Linked DNA regions of Homo sapiens. The protein of the gene in region 2 interacts with the protein of the main gene of each other region in a pairwise test. Each region holds a gene or a part of one and is shown on either strand. Other genes may lie near its edges.

Region 1 (6,804 bases), on a different chromosome or scaffold from region 2:
TGGCAGCATAGGAGGCTGTGAGAAATGGCCAGATTTTGAAGGTTTTGAAGGTAAGGTCAATATGATTTTCTGAAAGATATAATTTGGGATGTGTGAAAAAGGGAAAAGTAAAAAATGCCTCCAAGTCTTCTGGCCTGAGCACCTAGTAAAATGGAATTGCCATCAGCTGAAGCACTGATGTAAATAATGTTTTGGAAATAAAATCAGGAATTTGAGTTTTGAACATGAACTATGTCAAGTAGGCAATTGGATATATGAGAAGAGGAATCTTGGCTGGATATGCAAATTTGAGAATTATCAGTCTATAGAGGATAAAAGTATTTAAAGAGAAATGGACCAACGACTGAACCCTGTTATGAGGTAGGGAAGAAGACAGCGGAGAATCAGGAGTGACCAGTGAGGTAGAAGGAAAACCAGGAGTATGTGTTGTCCTGGAAGGCAATAAACAGTGTATTAAGGAGGTGGGAGTAATCAATCATGCCAGATGCTGCTGCTAAGGCAATTAAGGTGAGAGCAGAGAACTGGCCATTGAACTTGAATTCCTGGAGGTCTCTGGTGACAAGAACAGTTTTGATATCCAGGTGGGGGTGAAAGCCTAACTAGAATGCCTTCAAGAGAGAATGGTAGGAGATAAAGATAGCAAGCACAGGTTTGCTGCAAAGGATAACGGATAAACGGAGCAGCAGTTGGAGAGGAAGTAGGGACAAGTTTTTTTATTTTTAAGATGGAAAAAAATAACAGTGTTTGTAGGTCATGGGATAAATCCAGGAGAGAAGAAAAACTGATGATCTAGAAGACACTGGAGAATTGCTAGTGATGTCCCTGAATAAACAGGATGAAGTTTAATGTAGAGACTGGTTTTAATAGAAGCATGGATATTTCATTTAAGCAAAGTATATGAGTTTAGATGCTGATAAGCAGGTACAGTGGTGGAAGTCTGTGTAAGTAACCTTTTAACTGCTTCAATTTATCAATGAATTAGGAAGCAAGGTCTTTAACTGAGAATGAAGACAAGGGAAGAGATACAGGGTTTAAGAGAGAAAAAAAGGTGTTCTAGGTAATCCCAGCTTGGCAGTCACTGCTCTAAAATGCAAGACCTTTTCAAAGCCTGTACATGATACGGCCAGCCAACTAAATGTTGTACTGTTCACAATAACTTACATTCGTTGAGGATTTACCATTTGCCATGCTAACTGCTTCAAATATATTATCTCATCTAATTATCTTGATGAGCTTGAGTTAAGTAAATACTGTCATCTCAACTACCAAAATAAAAATAGGGTTAACCTCAAGACATTCCAGCCAGGCATATCCAGAGAAGCCAAAAAAAATTTGCTTTAGTTTATTCAAAAAATTTGCTGGAATTCTTATTGTGTGAGACATTGTGCTAGTGTTGACAACACAATGGCAACCTAAAACAATATTCCTGTCTTCTTGAATCCTAGTCTATTAGTAAAAGACATTAAATCAAGTAATTGAACTATCAAGTTACAAGTATGATAAGTGCAAGAGAGACAGATGTATGCTACCTGAGCCTGTAACAAGGGGGAGCTGTCCTAATCTGGGGGGCAGCGCGTAGAAGGGAACATGGACAAAAAAATTTTCCTGAGGAAGTAACTTTTCAGCAGAGGTCTAATGGATGAGAAAGAGTTAACCTATCAATCTACAAAGAGAGATAGCCGTGGTTGATTAAAAACTACTAATGTGTGACAGACATTGTGCTTGGTGCTTTATACACATTCTTTTTTTTTTTTTTGAGACGGAGTCTCGCTCTGTCGCCCAGGCCAGACTGCGGACTGCAGTGGCGCAATCTCGGCTCACTGCAAGCTCCGCTTCCCGGGTTCACGCCATTCTCCTGCCTCAGCCTCCCGAGTAGCTGGGATTACAGGCGTGAGCCACCGCACCCGGCCGCTTTATACACATTCTTATTCAATCTTCTCAACAACTTCAAGAGGTTGAAGGTATTTCCCTCATTTTACACATGCAAGCTGAGGCATAGAAAGTTTTAAGTAACTTGCTTAGGGTTACCCGCAAGTTAAGACGCGAAGTGTGATGGGAACTAGAATCTACCTAGAAACCATGGTGCTGCAACCATTTTTCCTGTCCTGCTTCTCAAAAATATAGCACACACAAAGCATTTGGGACACAGGAAACTCTGGGAATCAAACTGCCTGAGTTCTTACCCCGCCTCCACTACTCACTGGCTGCATGAACTTGGACAAGTTATTTAATTTCTGGTTTAATCATCTATAAAAACAAGCACAATAACACCCACCTAATCGGTTACTGAAAGGATTAAATGAGATAACGAATGAAAAGCAATTAGGGTAGAATCTGACACACGGCTGGGGCAGTGCTGTCCAGCAGAAATATAACGCGAGTCATGTACGTGATTTTAAATGTTCTAGGAGCCATCATGATTTAAAAAGTAAACAAAGATGAAAAATTAATTTACATATTTAAACAAATACACTCAAAACATCATTTCAACATGTAATCATTATAAAAATTATTAATGAGATATTACTCCTTATGCGCTATCTCTGAAACCCAATATGTATCTCCCATCTGCACCATTTCTTAGTTCGGGCTAGAGGCTACCGTACCGCACAGCGCAGATCCAGTGGCGGTTATAATTTTGAGGACCCGGCAACCGACCCAACGTTCCATATTTGTCCAGAATCCCTGAGGGCGGCGAGGTGGTCCAGCGGAAGATAAGACCGGCTCGGAACCCAGTGTATAAGACCCCAGGGTTCCGGGGAAGGAGATGTTTCAGCTAAAGGCCTCGGCCGAGACCCCGGCCCCTAGCTTTCTTTAGGGCCTGTTCGACTCTCCCCACTGCCGCTCTCCACACCCACCTCCCACCAGGCCCCTTGCCCCTACCTCTCACGCTAGTCCCCTGCTGCCGCAGCCAGCGGCTCCTAATGGGAGCTCAGGGCGTCCACATTGAGGACGCTAACTCCACAGTCGCCGGCCCATTCGCTCAGCTAGCTCTCGAGTAAGCGCCTGGGATATTTGAATGCAGTTCCCGCGAGAAGTCCCACGTCTCACGAGACGTCCGCCCAAGCCGCGCGGAAAGGAAAAACCAAGAGAAACGCCCAATGGAGCGCCCACCCCCTCCTACAGCTACTGCGCATGTGCAAGTGGCGCGCCGTGGGCTTGGCGCAGGCGCAGGCGCAGACGTGGCTCCACATAAATTTTTCCTTGGGCTGGTTTCCTGCATGTCTTTTAAGTATTTGCTTTTAGTTTCCGTGTTTTGGTGTTTTGTTTGTTCGTTTTTTTTTTTTTTTTGTTTTTACGACAATGCCTTCTAGGGGAACAGTGTCGCTGGGCTGGGCGGTGGAGAGACACCTTTGGCACCATCGTGCGATCTCATGCACCCTACCAGTGGTAATACTGGCGTTAATATTTAAGTTCCCACCATGTGTTAAAGTTTACAGATTATCTCAGTTAAGCCCGCAGCCTTATGAGGCAGATATTACTCCTCGTTTTCTACAGAGAAAAAGCCCGAAGAAAAAAAGTGCCTTGTCCAAGTGGTAGAACTAGAATTGAATGCAGTCTTAGAGTCCAAGCTGTTTGCATGTGTTTTTAATAATAATATTTTGTAACCCTGATGCCTATTCAAAAATTGAAGCGATCAGAAATAATAATAGATAACATTTAATGAGCACTGATGAGTCCTAGTAACTGTTACATGAATCATGTCGTTCTTTCGAGCCCATCTTTTCTTGCCTATTTGAGAACTTGGCTCTAACTGCTCTTTTTTGCATCTTCAGTTTTTTCTTCTCTATTGGATCTTCCCTATCAGTTCATAAACATGCTGCAGTGATTGCCATAAAATCATTTCATGATTTCATTTTTTAAAAAATCCTCCTTGACACCAATCGGCAACCACCCCATTTGTTTTCTTCTCTTTATAACAAAATTTCTGGGGAAAAAAAATCTTTACATCCATTATCTCCATTTTCTTACCTTTTGTTCTTTTGTTTGTTTTTCCCACTTTAACCAGGATTTGGTCCCAACCAATACTATGAAGTGGCTCTTGTTAGGTTTACCAGTGATTCCTACCTTGCAAAATTCGGTAGTCAATATTTAGTCCTCACTTCTGGTGAAATTTGACAGAGTTGCTTGCTCTCATTGATTTGAGTCTTTATGTCTTGGGATGCCACACTCTCCTTGCCCTCTTCTTCTCAGTTTCTTTTGCAGACTACAATTTCTGCCTGAGCTAAGCCAGACTCAAAGGGTTGATCTGAGCTTTAAGATTGGCAACAAATTGCTCACAGTGTTGTCTCACAGATTTATCTGGGACTCCAATGAACCAGATGCTCATTCATTTGTAATCACACCTATGTTCTTGGAGAAATGAAACAAATACCATTTTCCCTATCACTGAACAAAGATTCCTTAACTCAGGGGCCAGGAAAAGATTGTTCTAGCTTAGGCCAATCATGACTGGCTGCAATTAGGTAATCTAAAATCGATCTGAACTTATTTTTTCTCCTTTGTTACAAGAGAAGGTATACCCTATGTTATTAATGTTTCTTCCTATTCTATTTTAAAAATATGTATTTTAAACTATTAATTGAGTGACTGCAATGTGTTAGGCATAGTGGAGGAATTCAGAGATGTGGTAAACTCGACTATTGCCTAGAAGATGCTCGCAATATAGTAGGAGATTTTAAAAAACAAATAGAACTTACAGGGCTGTAAATGCTATGCAAGTGGTATGTGCCCCACACTAAAGGAGTTGTGTGAAGGGAGAGGTATATTTTGTCTAAATGTTCCTTTAAAACTTCCCAGTGCATGTGACACTTCAAGCAGGGCCTTGAAGGATGGCAGAGCTAAGGAGGGGTGCATTCTAGGGGAGGGGACAGCATTAGGAAAGTCTTAGAGGTTACCCCATGTCATAATAAAGGTCATTCTTTAGGGATGGCCTGAATACAGGACTGCCAATACCACCACTGGACGCTAGATGTCACAAGTGAAATGAATTCTAGATGGGTTCTACTTTTAAGATAACTTAATGGAACTTCTGATTCACAATACCAGATGCAGATCTCCGTACTCAGGCAAGGTCCGCATACCATGGCCTAAATACCAAAGGTCAGGAAAAAGCAAAAAACAGCAACCTTGTATCTGTTATTTTCCATTTACGTAAGGAGAGATGGGACTTGGCCTCCTCACACAGTAGTGGATTCACCAAGCATAGGATGGGAGTTCAGATTCTGGGAAACAACACCCACCTCCCAACTCTGTGGCCCTCAGTTACAATTCCTAATATTATAGCTGTTCAGAACTGGGATAGACTCCTGTAGTGAACTTGTCATCATTTCTTCATTGTGACTGTTCTAGACGAAACGAGAGGATTAGACTGTTACGTTATATTGAAAGCTGCATATATTTTGACAGGAACTTATTGAATGATCATTTGTTTTGGGCATTACAAATGAATAGTCTCTGTATTAAACGAACTTAGAGTTTAGTGGAAGAGACATTTACCAAACAATAAACAGTAAATCCTTACTTAGAGGATGACTTAGACTTTCTTGTTCCTTCATGTTATTAAGTAGAGCTGCAAGCTAGTCATCGCTGGGATCAAGCAAAAACAAGCTCAGGACTCTGAGACACAGAGTCTGCAAATAAGAATGAGATTAAGCTGTAGAGTGCTGTGATTTATAGGATGGGCTGGAATATGAAGTTACGAAAGTTACACTCAAGGTTGTGGTCACTGAAACTTGGGGGATGGCCGAGATGAAGAAAAAAAGCTTTGAGAGAGAACGGAGGGGTGTGTGCAGGACTTTTGGGATTGTCCTAATCCATGGCACAGGAGGAGAATAAGGATCCAACAAGAAAAACAGGAGCCATATGAGAAGAGATCAGGAAATTGAATTGTCACAACTTCCACTGTGATAATTAGATATCAGAATGAATCATTGTACCAGGCAGGTGGGTTTGACTGTTTAATAGTAATAATGATAATGAAACCCAGTCTGCGATCTCTCCTGTATCAACAATGTATAGCATCAGCTTGAACTCTGAATGAGCCTAATAGCTATACTATTTTTTCTTTAAATAGGGGGAATCTTCTCTCAGAGAAAGAGTGCACCATCCCAATATAGTAGACATTTAACAGCTAACATCCTAGCATGAATTCCTTCCTCCTATTCCCACCAAGAGAATTCTGATTATTCTTTTGTATAATTTCTATTTTCTCAATTTTCAGCCATATGAATTCTTTAAAACTGATGCTACCTTTCATCTCTAGGATATCCCGTCACCCTGGTTACAGTAATTGATTCAAAGATGTGCATGTGATGGAATCTAAGCCAAAGAGATTTTTCACTGGGACAGCTGGAAAAATGGATTTTGTTAACTGCCTCTGTTATAGTCTGAATTGTGTCCTCACCTCCATTGCCCCCCACCCCATATTCATATGTTGAAACCCTAATTCCCAATGTGACTGTATTTGGAGACAGGGCCCTTTAGGTTAAATGAGGTCACAAGGGTGAGGCCTTAATTGATAGGGCTACTGTCCTTATAAGAAGAGGAAGAGACATCAGAGATAGATCCCCTTCCTCTTTATCTCTCCCTCTCTTTTCCCCACTACTCCCAAGTGCGCACAGCGAGAAGGAGGCTGTCTGCAACCCAGGGAGAGAGACTTCACCAGAAACCAACCTTAGTCTTGGACTCCCAGCCTCCAGAACTGTGAGAAAATGTCTGTTATTTAAGCCACCCAATCTGTGGTATTTTGTTACAGTTGCCTGAGCAGATTAATACACCCTCTGTACTTAAACTTTATAACCC
Region 2 (8,392 bases):
CAACAACAGTCAGAGAATTCAATACACTACTTTCATAATAGACAGAAATAGGCATATCAACAAGGAAATAGAAGACTTGAACAACACAACAGGCCAACACTATAGACCTAACAGCCATCTATCTATAGAACACAGCATCCAACAACAGTACAATACATACTCTTAAGTACACATGGATTATTCTGCAGGATAAACCATATGCTAAGCCAGAAAGCAAACCTCGATAAATTTAAGACTGAGATCATATAAAGTATGTTTTCTGATCACAACAGAAAAAAATTATAAATCAATAACAAATTTGGGAATTCATAAATATGTGGAAATTAAACAATGTACTCCTAAATAACCATTGCATCAAAAAGAAATTAAAAGGCAAAGTATTTTCTAATACCTTGAGATGAATGAAAACAAAAACATGGCATACCAAAACTTATTGGATGCAGCTAAAGCAATGCTCAGAGGAAAATTTATAACTGTTAATGCCTTTATTCAAAAAAGAATTCAAATCAATAACCTAACCTTCCACCTTAAAATACTGGAAAAGACACAAACTAAATACAAAGCAAGCAGAAGTTAGTCTGCTTTCTTACTAATCTTACTATTTTGTAAGATTTGAGCAGAGTTTGATGACATAGAGAATACAAACACAATAGAGAAAACCCCAAAATCCACTTTGGCTCCTTGAAAAAAATCAATAAAATTGACAAGCCTTCAGCTAAACTAACCAACAAAAAAAGAGTAAACTCAAATTATCTTAATTGGCAAACCTTCTGACAACAGTATTACTTTACACACCATCAGGTACGTTAGTTACCATGAATCAGAGGCACTTACATGTGTATAAGCTACATGAAAAATCATTTCACTTTGTTGCCTTATTAAATTGTTTCATAAACAAAATGCACCCTAAATTAAATTTCAAGATCTATGACATTTGTCATTAATTCTCCCCTTTTTCTTTGGGAGATTCCTGCCCCAATTACAGGGTCCATCACATAGGTTTTACTTTCTTTCCTATCACACCATCAAAACAGATTTGAGATTAGTTGTTGTGCTTTCGTTTACTGACAAACTACCTTTCAAATTCATTCCTACAAAAGCGTATTATAAACAGTATTCATATTCTGAATCTGAGGTAACTAACTGTGGAATTAAAGGATTTTCCATATAAAGAATATTATGCCTCCAAACAATGTCACCAATGGACACCATGATCTGAACCAAGTAGTTCATTTCAGTCTTTTACTCAGAAAATATACAGTAAATAAATTCAAATTGCTTCAATATACAGACATAAACACACATACACACACACCTGTGAAGGGTGAAGTCTGAACAACTAGATGTTATCCTGAAAGTCATTTAATTACTATTTGTTATTGTATTTGTTTATTTTGTGTATTTCAGGGAAAGATGAAAGAAGATTGCAAGAAGCATCAGAAGTCTAGTTCAAGAACAATCCCTGACTGTTCAGCACCAACCCGGTCAGGAGTGGAGAGGCTGGTACCTGTGCAGTGTTTTGTTCCAGGAATGCCATATGAATGGCCTCTCATTTATGGAAGGCTTCAGATCTAGTCTTTTGATGTTAATTACAAATAAGGCTGCACGTGTGCAGCCAATGTTTGGCATGTGAGTGGTAACAGTGCTAGATGTAAATATTTTTGTCACAGTTTTGTAACCATGCTTCACCGTTTCCTCATTGTTGGACACTAGGAACTGTTATACACAAGGGAAGTCCAGGACCTCTCTCCGCTTTCAGAGGCACTGCCTGGTGCTGACCCCATGTGATCCAGGGCTACCAACAGATCTCAACCCTTAGCAAGCCTCAACTTTTCCACACATTGCCATAACCCTAGTCCTTTCTCTTGCTGCCCAAGAATACATGATGAACTTTCTTTGCTTGAATTTCAGGGATATCTGGTGTGATTTTCATTTGTATTTAATGCTTCCATTATTACCGTCTCTACTCAACACATCTAAAAACTCTGAACATATACTTATTCCACCTGTCTTCTATTTCTATGACTTAGATATTCTGCATCACAAAATCCCTCCAAACTGGGACTATGTTTTTGAAGTCATTCATTTTACAATTATAACAACAATAACAATAATATTTATTGTTTGCTTTGTGCCAGGTACTCTACTGCTTTACATAAATTATCTCATTCTGTCACATCTAACGGCAACTAAGTATACGCTTACATCTGCTAGTGGCACCTAAAATAAGGATATTGTTGGTCATCTTTAAAGAAATGTCTTAACATACCAAAGTAGTGGAATCAATAGAATAAAATATTTAAGTCTTACAAAGCGTACGACACTAAAGTAATATAGGATACCACTAAATTTATATTTCTATGTATGGAAAGTAAAGCTATTCCTGGTACATGGTGCTGACCTTCTTTTTATCCTATTTCTTACACCTTTCTCAAATTCCTATTAAACCACAGCTTCGAATATGTCAAATAAATAAATTTGATCCATACATTCAGTTAAATCCTTCAACTATGTAGTAATACCTAAAGTGAGTATTATGTTGCTGCATTAATGCCAAAAAATGTTTCCCATGGCAATCCAGCCTAATATTAATTGTGGTATGGGTGCTGAAAAAATAAAATGAGACATAATTTTACTAATCATTCACTTTGCATTTTGAAGCTCTATGCTGTTCTTAATCAAAACTCTTATTTTATTATCAAGAATTACACTAGTTCTAAAATGAGTGAATTTTCTGTTGGAGACAGGAAATGAAGAACTACTAACACCGGGAATGTATTTTTCCTTTCTCAATATTAACACATGATATATATTCATATTAATAACAACTCTGGAAACTAGTTTCATTCCTTCTACACATAAGCAATAAACAGTATGTGCAACTATGAATCCTAGCAGCAGTAATGTGGATATATAATATAGGGTTTCTTTGGAATATACAGCCATTTCTAATATTTCATTTCAGCAAGTGTACAGGCAACCATCACAGATGTCCATCAAAGCTGGATTAGATGAAGACAAACAACGCAGGCTTTGAGGATAAACTGAAGGTGCAGCTCAAAAGTTTCCTTTTCTTATCCAAGGGCATTATAGGACCATTGTCTTCCTCCTTCAGGCAAAAAAAAAAAAAAAATGAATCAATTATGTTACTGATATTCTTCCACAGCAGACTGAAAAGTCTTTTTACAGTACAAGAGATAGTAAAAACTAAAAATTTCATAAGAAAATGTGGAAATTTCAAAAATATCTTTGTGCTCAAGTTTGTTATCTCTGCAATTTTTCCACAAAGTTTACCATAATTTTATTTCTATGGCAGACCTATTAATGCAGGATTTCACAGAAGCAAATACTTTCATCCAAAATAAATAATGCTTGAACTATTTTACAAACAAAAAATATGTATATCATGTCAAATAATAAAAATAAAGCTTTAAGTTCTTGTCATTCATTTCACATATAATAATCACAGATGGATGGTAGCTCAAGAGCACACAGACCCCTTCATTCCTAATTCCCAAATGACTTACAATTCTATTAAATAAATAATAAATGCAGAATATATATATATATATATATATATATATATATATATATATATATGACAATAGTACTTGTTTGAGATAACAAATAATGTGCTTCTCATATAGGAAAACAACATCAGCTAAGATTTTAGTTCAATGATACTGAACTTTTTGATGTTGAACTAGCATTGCTAGCAATGGCAGTGGGAAATTTGCAGTCTTATTAGTTGCCTAAGGTAGGTAATAAATCTCTATTAAAATTTAGAATGCATATACTTTTGGACTTGGAATTCTAGGAACTTATAATAGACATATAATTATCCAATCATACAAAGAGTCTATGTGTAAGGATATTCACTGCAAAAAGAAACTGGAAACAAACTAAATGGCCTCCTTCTGGGCAATGTCCTTTGGAAAAAAAGAAAAAATAATAAAACAAAATAGCCTCCTTTCCTTAATAAATTATATTACTATGCAGTATTTCAGAATTATGCATATATAGTATATATGTATCTGTGGACACACCTGCACACACACACACTATATATATATATATATATACACACACACATTTCTACATATGCATACATATATAAACATAGATACATACAAATATATAGAATGTCTGGAAAAATTTATTAGAAAATATTTATAATGCTGGGTTATGTATTTCCAAACTATATATTTTTTCCTGCTCCCACTCTACCAGGACCAAACTACATTTCAAATATGATAGTCACAATAAAATCTTTTTAAATTTTTTAATCTTTTTAAATTGACAGAAAATATTGTAGATATTTATCATGTCAACAAAATGTTTTAAAATATATACACATTGTGAAATGGCTAAATCGAGCTAATTAGCATGTGTATTACCTCACATAGTTAAAAATATACTTTTAGCACTTTTCAAGAAAGTGATATGAAATTGATTATCAAACTGTAAAATCACACCAATTCAGAGTTAATGGGGCCTAAAGGTCACAATGTATTTATTTTCTGCAAAAGGAAATAACCTGGGGTCCAGTGTTTCCCAAACTATGTTCCATAAAAAACAACAACCTGGTTGAAAAAACGAATCCATGTTAAAAAATACTGTATCAACTCTGTTAAAATATGGTTCTTTAATTCAAAGCCATTTCAGAGGCTCTAATATGCTGATGTGCATTGCAAATCTCCAAAAGGAGGATATTATTACATCCAGGATTCTCCAGATATATGTGAACAGTCACCTCTTGATTTAACACACATTTTGGAGGACCAGTGCGCTGCAGAACTCATTTGGGAGAGGCTGGTCTAGAAGCATGTATCCTAAGTTTATGAAATTTCATTATAAAGAATATATCCAGCCTTCTAAATATTAAGCTACCATGGCCCAAAACATGAAATAAAATATGGGTAGGTAAATACACAGTCATTCTAATCATACGAGGTCAGGTCTCAAGCCAAAGCAGAATTTAACATTTAGTATACATCCACAGTGCAACAGATGCACATACATGTTGGTGTCCTATTCATTTTTGAAGCTCTCAGGGCATGATTCAGGGGGTTCTTGGTAAATGCTGAATGAATTCTAATTTACCTACGTGTAGAATCTGCTGGTGAATTTGCACACTCACTCAGTTAAAATCTCCCTCACATGGGGAAACTCAATACCCTATGCTATTGAGCTTTTCTTACTTATATATTTTTCAAAGAAATGACACCCACCTATGCCAAGATCATATGATGATGATCTTATTAGCTTTACCTGCCTCAAAAATGTACACTTGATCTTGTTTACTGCAAATACCAGATTAACTGAAAAAATGTTTCAATGAAATCACAATCTGGGGTATGGATTTGGAATGAGGGAGAACCAAGTCCAAATCCCAGCTCTTCTATCCAATTTGCTGTAAGATTTTAGGCAATTTACTTGCCCCTTCTGAGACTCAGACAATATCTACTTCTTAGGGAATGTGTGGGACTGTAATGACAGCAGATATCATGTGCTGAGCATAGTACTATAAGTAATAATTTTGGTTGATTTTAAAATCATCTCACTAGCTAAAAATTAAACTACAATACTGTGCTCCAACATAAATGTGAAGTATGGCCCATTATGTTTATGCCATGTGTTGGAAGTTTACTTTTCAGTGTTTTAGAGAAAGTTTTCATAGGATAAAGTAATGCTTGGTCTCATCTGTTCCGTATTCCCAAGCTCCAGCCCAACACCTGACCCAAAGCACTCAGAAAATGTGTGTGTGCATGCATAAATAAGTGCAACAAAATGACAGTAGCAATTGCTAATATTATTTATATCAAAATTATGCATGCATATAAAGGCTTAAAGTTTTTAAATGTTTGTTATGAAACTATCAGTCCCTTGTCCTATGTGTCACCAATTTCCTTCTCCTTAACTCTTTTAGCTGATTATTTTAACACTAGAGAGCTAAATGGCATGATTGTATTGCTACCTTTCAATTTTGTTTCAGTATTATGTATAAATTTTTCCTATGGAGAATGAAGATTTGACCCTCTTTCCTCCTGTCAACATCATGCACACACACACACACACACACACACACACACACACACACCCCACCCCATATGAACCCTTCCCATCTTCCCATCACCCCATCCTCCAAATATGGCTATATAGTAAATCTGGTTGAATCAATTATGCAACTTCTATTATTGTAATGATGTAAAAGTATTCAGAGGTGAACTACATGTGTTAATTTTTCTTTCCTGCACAACATTTTGTTTTCTCTGGAGTGATAAATACCTTGGGTTTTTCCACCTAAGTGTTCTACGTGCTCATAACTGATTCAATGCACAAATACCTACCCATTGCCTAGCTCTCCTCTCAAGAAGTGAAGATATATCATGCATTGTATCAACTTCACCATTCCTGAAGAAAGCTCATCTAGAACCTTCTCACCTGCTCACATCTGGACTGACTGCCTGGTTTGCCTATGATCTCATTCTACTGTCATTCTGGCATTTATTCATCCCCTTGGTTTTTCTCCTTTGCTGGCTCTCCTGTTTCGTGGATCCCACATCTTTTTCCTTAGCTTACTCCATTTTGGTGTGGCAATATCAAGTAGCTTCTGGGAAATAAATTTGTGGTGGCTTTGATATCTATAAATGACTACTGTAACCACACACTGGGTTAAAAGTTTGACTAGGTAAGGAATTTGGTGGGTTGTAATTTTCCCTCAGAATTCTGAAGGTCATGCTCACTGCCTTAGCTTCCAGCGTTGCTTTTGAGAAGTCTGGTATTCAAATTCCAGATTCCTTGATTTTGACATGTTTGTTGCTTTGGTTTTTGCCATTCTGGAATTTCTCCCTCCATGTTCTGAAGTTTCACAATGATGGTGTCTTGGTGTGAGTGTGTTTTGATCTACTGTGCTGGGAATTCAGTGGATTCTTTCCATTTGTAACTTTATGCTCACGAGTTCTGGGGAAATGCTTTGGATAATTTTGTTGCCTGATTCCTCTCCTCCACTTTCTGTGTTCTCTCTCTAGCTTATTACGTGGACGATAGACCTCTTAAACTGGTCCTCTAATTTGCTTACATTACTGTATTTTTCATCTTTTTGCCTTTTGCTGTAATTTCTGAGAATTTTCAATTCTGCCTTCTGATTCATCTGTAGAAGTTCTCATTTCTGCTATCATGCTTTCAGTTTCCAAAAGCTCTGTTTTCTAAATATTCCTTTCTTAATAGCACCCTGTTTTTTTTGTGAATGCAATTTCTTTCCTTACCTCTCCAAATATATGAGTGACAACTTCTTGACAGTTTTTCTCTTCTTACAAAGTATTTATGTCTTTTAACTCACTTTATTGTCTGATTTGGGTTCTTTCATTTACAGTTCTTCTTCAAATATCTGTAACTGTTCATATCTGGGACTGGCAAACAACCACTACAACAAAACCAGAGTGGAGGCGGAGGGCACCGTGGAGGCCTCTTTATTACACCATCACCACTGGATAAGCCCGTTGGTCCACTTCTGCAGAGAAGTCACCTGGGCTGGTCAGACCCTCCCCAGAAGATACTTCCAGCTTCATCTGGAGAGTAGGGGCCTTTCTGCCAGTGTATGGGAGGATGACATGAGGTCTGAGGATGTTATTTACTCACTCAATTGTGTCTGTGTCCCCAAGTACAGAGTCTCTCTCTTAATCATCTCCAGAAGACAAGTATCTCCAGTCCACCAAGGCTTTGGAGGGGGCTGAGAGATTAAGTGCTTCTTAAATAGCTTTCAACCAATACAGATGTCTTTAGCCTCCTTTTACTCCAGCTTCCAGATGATGTCTGTTGCCACCAATTCCTGGGAATTTGAGAGATTCTATCATGCGAACGGGTTTGTTCCTCACATCTGCTAAATCTGTTACAAGACCATCTGCTTCCAGCTTCCAAAGTATTGTGGCTGTTGTCTCCTCTCTTGCTTCTGTATCCTTGTGAGGCAATGCACTTAAAAAAAAATCTCTTTCCTGTTATTTTAATGCAGTCTGTGGTGGAAACAAAATTAGTTGCCTACCTTCAATTGATGGTCATTATTTGAAATATAAGTTCATTTTTATGCCTTTGTGTATTTTCTAAAGTTCCTACAATAACTACATTAGTTAGTAATCAGAATACAAATTTATTTGGTAAAACCACCTAAAGAAGTAACACTTTGAATATATGAAGTTAAGGCTGAACTCCTCCCTTTGGGATTTTCTCCAAATATTCATTTATCTACATCTAAATAATAAGGAAGCTTACTCATAAAGAGAAATTTTCTATTATACAATGATCAGTGTTCATAATGATGACCTCAAAGTATGGCCACATCCTAAGAAGTCTTCTAAATCATCAGCTATTTCAATATAGTTATAGCAGATGCCAT
Region 3 (7,000 bases), on a different chromosome or scaffold from region 2:
ATCCTAGCACTTTCAGAAGCCAAAGCAGGCCAATTGCTTGATCCCAGGAGTTCCAGACCAGCCTGAACAACACGGCGAAACCCTGTGTCTACAAAAAAACAAACAAACGAACAAAAATTACCCAGATGTGGTGGTGTGCACCTGTGGTCCCAGCTACTCGGGAGACTGAGGTGGGAGGATCACCTGAGTCCAGGGAGGTCAAGGCTGCAGTGAGCCATGATTGCATCACTGCACTCCAGCCTGGGTGACAGAGTGAGACCCTATTTCCCCCCACCCCCAAAAAAAGCAAGAGATGAGGGAGGATAAATGTTTCATAAAATAACAAAATGTTGTTTTCAGTCGCTAAAATTCACTTGACTATGTCTTTTTTTTTTTTCTGAACAAAATGGTTTATATTAGCCAAAGAAACAAGAGGGAGTTGAGCATTTTAAATAAATTAATTTTTGTTTACTCATGTCAAGATATGTCTGCAATAAAAATGTCACCCATTAGTCTATTTTTAAAAATTCTGTTTTCTCTGTTTTGAGGAGCTTTTATGGAAGCACCAGACTATAATATTGTTCTGAGCTCACTTCTGGTACTACACAATTCTCTATTAGAATCCCAGATCTCCACTTATTGGCTGTGTGAGCATGGCAAGTAATTTTCTAAACCTCTTTCCTTAGCTGTGGAAGGGGGATAAAAATAATACGTACTTCTATTTTACCAGAATTGAGGATTATTTGGTGTTGTATGTGAAAACATTCTCTAAGCTATAATCAACTATAATATTCATTGATATTACTAGTCACATGCTGTATTTTAAAATGCTGCCAGTACAATTTATTTTCTGGTGGATATTGCTATATAGATACTGTCAGCTGCTTTTTTTTTAAATGGGTTGGTCATGCAAGAAAGTATATTGTTTGGTTTGGTTATGAATGATTTAGTTGGTTCTTATGAGTCAGAGAGAGAATTATGGAAGAGGGTTGGAGGGACCTTGGGAAATTTTCTACTTCATCTCTCTGACTCTTAACCTGAATCTGTTAGCGTGAGCATAAATGGTCTTCCAAGGGTCTGTGAACTCTGTATATTTATACTTTTCTGGGGAGAAATTAAATGAAAATTTATACTTTTCTGGGGAAAAATTAAATTAAAAGAGCATCATGACCTTGTTCCCACTAAAGGTTTAGGAAACCACTAGCTTCAATGATCTAGGCAGGTTTCTTTAGTAAAAATGTTAGAGATTATTTTTAAAATTAGTTTTTTGTGGAAAGGAAAGAGAAACAGGTTATATTGCGGAAAGGAAAGAGAACAGGCTATTTTTGAAGCACTGAGTATCTGTTTTTCTTCCAAAGCTAGAAGTTGATATTTATGATACACTACCTTCATATGAATAATAGTGCTGCTACTTCTACCTGGAAGTGGTACCTTTGATTGATTCATTATCATTAGGCAGGTATTGTCTACTCCTCTCTTCTTCCCCACCCCCAGCCTTGATGGGCAATACAGTGGAGGCAGAGAATGGGACTTTAATACAATCCAGCATGTCAGAATATTATTTAAAATGCCAAAAGATAATTTGGCTTGTTTATTCTAAATTTGGATGTTCTTTGTTTTCACAACAAAACACCCAATGTTAAAGAAAATTAAGTGTTTAATCTTTCAAACTAGATGATGATATATACATAATCTGTTGTATGATATTTCTTGTATATCATAGAGTATAAAATTTTATTAAATCCTAATTGATGATCACTTTGACTTTTAGTACTGCTAGTTTGAAAAGATGGATATGTATGTTTTCAAGAAATTTACAGTTTGCTTTTGTAGATTATATTATAATTTGTGATTTTCATTTATAACATTTAAAACTTATTTGCTTTTTTTGAATTTCTGAATCGGACATACTTTTAAATCTGAGTTTATTCTTATAAGAATAAGCGTTTGGAATTTTGCCCTGTTTTCCTTGTATAATGATTGCTGGGCTATAAGGCTTTACAGTGTAAAACCAAGTTCTGTTCTGGATCAGTTACTAGTAGCATTCCCAAGGCTGGGAGAGTATGAGGTGGATCAAGTGATGCTAAACAAACTTGTGAATGAATCTGTCCATCAAGTAATGTCTTTTTCCTTGAGATCTTTTTTTCCTTTGATATTAATATTTTCATTTAAAGTTGAAATGTTTTTCAAAGTTCAAGGTTCTAAACCAATATTTGGGAATTTATAGAATAAAGTAGCAGAAGTGTGGTTCTTTGTAAAAATAGTCTGAGAAGTCTGAAATAGACCTCAAAGATTAGTAGTAGAGATGAATGCCAATATTGCAGCATACTTTATATATAAAAGATAAGTCACTACGTTGGATCTTTAGTTATTTTAATGCAGAGGATTGCTTAACTTTAATAATGAAAGTTTGAATTAAATTAATTAGATATGGAAAACAAAAGGGAATAATTTCAGCAAAAATTTTACCTATGGGAATCCAATCATTTTAAGATCAGTGATTTGTATGGCTTCTCCTACACTTAAACCTTAAAAAATTCTGGCCGAGCGGGGTGGCTCACGCCTATAATTCCAGCACCGTGGGAGGCCGAGGCAGGTGGATCACTTGAGGCCAAGAGTTCCAGACCAGCCTGGTCAACATGATGAAACCCTCTCTCTACTAAAAATACAAAAATTATCTGGGCATGGTGGTGCACAGTTGTAATCCCAGCTACTTGAGAGGCGGAGGCTGGAGGATCATGTGAACCCAGGAGGAGGAGGCTGCAGTGAGCTGAGATTGTGCCACTGCACTCCAGCCTGGGTGACAAAGCAAGACTCCATCTCAAAGAAAAAACAAAACCAAAAAAAAACCTTTAAAAATTCCTGAAACATTTCCTGTATAGGGAGAATATTATTAATACCACTATTTTGGTTCTCATTGTCATTTACACATAGGCACCTCCATACAGAGATAACATTAATTCTGTCTTTGGCCTAGTGATAAGAGCTTGGGCTTTGTAGTCAGGCAAGTCTCTATTGAATCCTCGACATTGCACTTCATAGCTATGAGACCTTGGTTAGGTGTCTTAACTTCTCTGGGCCTCATTATCCAAAACTGCAAAAAAATAGGAATTTTACCTCTTTGAGTTATCCCAAGGATTGAAATGAATACATGTAAGTATTTAACTCATGATGACAATTATATATATATATATATATATATATATATATATATATATATATATCTGTTATGTGCCAGTTTGTTAACTCATTTAAGTTTTATAGCAATCCTATGAGGTTGATACTATTATTTTCCTCATTTTTACAGATGAGGAAACTAAAGCTAATGAAACGTTATGTAACTTAACCAATATCATACAATGAATATACAACTAATAAGTAGATAGAAGCACCCAATTAATGCTTGCTGTTGTCATTAAAAAAAAAAAGATGACTTAGGGTATTACCATCTTTTCTATAGTGGGTTCCTAATAATTGCAATCTCATGTAGAGCATTATAAAGCATATTTTATTTCTTTGCTGGAAAAAATGTTGATTGCAGGACTGTGTTCCTGACCAAGGACTCAGGATCACATAATTTATAAAAGTAATAACATCTGTTTATTGAATCTTACTATGTACTAGATACAGAGCTAAATACTTTATATAAATTACTTCACTTACCCATCACAACAACCTTAGAGCTGAGGCTCAGAGTAATTTTAAGTAACTTGCCCGAGGCTGCACAATTAACACAGAATCCCAAAACTGTCTAGCTCTAAAGTGTCTGCTGCTAACCGCCAGTTTATGTGCCTTGTGTCGCGTATGGCTGACAGATATCTCTCAAAAGCAAGGCAACAGCTTCTATAATTTTAAATAGCAAAATGTGCTACTGTAATTTTGAACCAGAAGGAAACTGATTACCTACTGCCTGTAGGCTAAACCAAGCTTGCTGCCTGTTTTTGTAAACAAAGTTTTATTGGAACACAGCCATGCTGTGTTCTTTTAAAAATAAAGACATTGAGACACAGAGAGATTAGGTAACTTCCCAGTAATGTAGCTAGTAGTAATCTAATGTCAGTAACTATGTTAATAAGCCTCTGAAAGTCTGCCAATCCCTGAATCCCATGCTACCCCCTAAACTCTATGTAAGCTCAGCAATGTGCTCTATTCAGAGGGACCGTGCCTGGATGGCATAGCTATCCCTTCAGTAAGTAGTAAATTCAGCTTTGTGCTTTTCGTTTGGTTTCAAACATCCAGTGTGAAATATTCCATACTTTGATACTTGGCAACAAATTATTGATAAATTAATTTTTTAGTAGGCATTGTTATCTTAAGTACAACCCTGTCACTTCTCTGACATTCTCAAATAAAAATAATGAGTAATATAGGCCCCTGTTAAGGTTCATGCATGTAGTTCGCATATTTAGGTAAAATTCAAGATCTTTCTTTTAATACTTTATACTAGACTTTTAGACCACTATGATTGTGATAAACTAAGTGGCCCAGTTCAAACAAGGAAATGATTACTGTAAGGTGTCAAAGGAATTCCTTTTTAATAAAACAGATCCCAAAATAAACATCTTACAAAGTATTCAGTGTAGTGAAAATGTTGTTTATAGACCCTAGAAATGACATTAGTATTTAACAAGCAGGCTTTGATAATAGTAGTATCTAATATTGCGTGTGTCATTTAAGGATGGGGATACACTCTTAAGAAACATGTTAATAGGCAATTTTGCCATTGTGCAAACGTCATAGAGTATACTTACACAAACCTAGGTGGTATAGCCTACTACACACCTAGGCTCTGTGGTGTAGCCTGTTGCTCCTGGGTTACAAACCTATACAGCATGTAGTAACATGCTGAATAATATAGTCAATACTGTAACACAGTGGTTACCTATTCGTGTGTCTAAACAGAAAAGGTACAGCAAAAATAAAGTGTTATAATCTTATGAGACTATCATCTATGCATTGGTCACCATCATCATCTATTGTGGACCAGAACACTGATATGCAGCACATGACTGTAAAGACTGTAAATGCTATTGTTAAGAAAATTTTTTTTTTTCTTTTTGAGATAAGGTCTCACTGTGTCGCTTAGGCTGGAGTCCACTGGCAAGATCATGGCTCACTACAGCCTTGACCTCCCTGGGCTCAGATGATCCTCCTACCTCAGTCCCCTGAGTAGCTGGGACTACAAGTGCAAGCCACCTCACCTGGCTAATTTTTTGATCTTTTGTCGAGACTGGCTCTCACTATGTTGCTCAGGCTGGTCTTGAACTCCTGGTAGGCTCAAGCAGTCCTCCCAGCTCATTGGTAACTGGTTGTTTTTAGCTTTTCAGTTTTCAAAAAAAAATTACTAGGTTGTATAACTCACAGCCTAAGTCATCAAGATATTTCTTAAAAGGTGGAACTGTTACATGAGAGGGCACGTAAATTAAAAAGATTTTGGATATCTTAGCTAAATGGAGCCTAGGAAGGCTTATATGAACAGCAGTGTGAGAGTGTTTATTTCCTGACAGCCCTACCAATTTTATTTTTTGTCTTTGGCAATATTTAATTTCATTGATTAATAAGGATTTTTAAATATTCTCATTGATCATTTTCCCTTTCATTAAATCTACCTTTTTTCTATACGTAAGGACAGTTTTCAGCAGACAGTGTTGCTGTACTACTAACTGAAGGCCATGTTATTGTTGGTCTTTACTCAGTTATTGTTCAAGAACACATCTGTCTAAAAGAGGACTCTGACATCGAGCTGTTGCAGGCATCTAATTCACACTTAAGTTTAACTATGACTTTGACTTCAGCACCAGTGACCTCTCTAATCAGTCTTTCCAGTAACCTACTAGATCTCTCCATTGGGTCTCCTATCAGTGTTGAATTTCAGCACGCCCTGACTTCCAGTTAGGAAATTATTCTTTCCAACTCAGTGATCTCGGCTCATTGCAACCTCCATCTCCCAGGCTCAAGTAGCTGGGACCACAGGCATGTGCCACTATGCCTGGCTAATTTTTGTATTTTTTGTAGAGATGGGGTTTTGCTTTGTTGTCCAGGCTGGTCTCAAACTCCTGGGCTCAAGTGATCTGCCTGCCTTGGCCTCCCAAAGTGCTGGGATTACAGGCTTGAGCCACTGTGCCTGGCCAAGAAAAACATTTTTTTAAAGTCACGGCAGTAATTTGTTGGAAGTCATGTATACTTTGAGTAGGAACTATTGAAGCTATTATACAGTTTTTCAAACCAGCAGATTCTCGTTTAATGATTGGTATATTTTGGACTGTTTGATTCAAAATTTTAAATGTAAATAAAAAGGAAATAATGAGTATAGCCTACTTTTTTCCTGACTTAAAAGTAAAAATGGAAATTTTAAGAAGAGTATTACCTTTGAAATAAAGTGATTCAAAAATTGAAGTAAATGTCTTATGCACAGTGTTACTTTAGTTAAAATTATTTAAGCATACATTAATTTGGATTATAGTAGAAAAATAATCTCTAGTGTTCATAATCTGTTCATCCATTATAAAAATATTTTAAGTACTTCTGTTTGTTTATTGTGTTATATGTGTTTACTGAACATGGGAGTAATAGCAGTGAAGAGAGACGGTGCCTATACTTTAGGGGCTTATGTAGTGTTACAGGGAAGACTAGTAGTGAATAGGCACTTATAAGTATTAAGTATTTTGAATTTGACCAAAAATTGAATAGGGTATACTTTGTGATAAGTATAATGAAAAAAATATCAGACTTTTGTGGGAGCACAGAGGAAGTACACTAGGAATAGGAAGATGTTTTGGGATGGCCTTCCTGAGCAGATGAACCTGGGCTGATCTTAGAAGATGAGCAAGAGTTAGCAGGAGAGAGGGGTGGTAAAGGGCATTTCAGAAAGAGCAGAAAGCCTGAAAGGAGGCAGAGAGGTGTGAAATAGCCTAAAGTATGTGGAAAATTAAACACATTCAGGTTTTGCTCTATGGAACATGGGGTGGGGTTTGCCATTTTGTTATTTCACAAGTATGCAAGAATTGATTTTGGTAAATGC

The links.
Region 1: the proteins of CA8 (region 2) and SPDL1 interact in binary tests that used the Homo sapiens proteins (3 or more experiments, as listed by UniProt).
Region 3: the proteins of CA8 (region 2) and KLHL8 interact in binary tests that used the Homo sapiens proteins (3 or more experiments, as listed by UniProt).

What each region holds. Positions count from the first base shown.
Region 1 is NC_000005.10:169,579,969-169,586,772, reverse strand, and holds the start of SPDL1 (protein Spindly), read right to left. Parts: upstream 3,001-6,804; 5' UTR 2,884-3,000; intron 2,694-2,883; exon of another isoform or gene 2,607-2,693; intron 1-2,606. UniProt on the Homo sapiens protein: Required for the localization of dynein and dynactin to the mitotic kintochore.
Region 2 is NC_000008.11:60,186,877-60,195,268, forward strand, and holds part of CA8 (carbonic anhydrase-related protein), read right to left. Parts: intron 3,110-8,392; 3' UTR 1-3,109. UniProt on the Homo sapiens protein: Does not have a carbonic anhydrase catalytic activity.
Region 3 is NC_000004.12:87,210,619-87,217,618, reverse strand, and holds part of KLHL8 (kelch-like protein 8), read left to right. Parts: intron 1-7,000. UniProt on the Homo sapiens protein: Substrate-specific adapter of a BCR (BTB-CUL3-RBX1) E3 ubiquitin ligase complex required for The BCR(KLHL8) ubiquitin ligase complex mediates ubiquitination and degradation of RAPSN.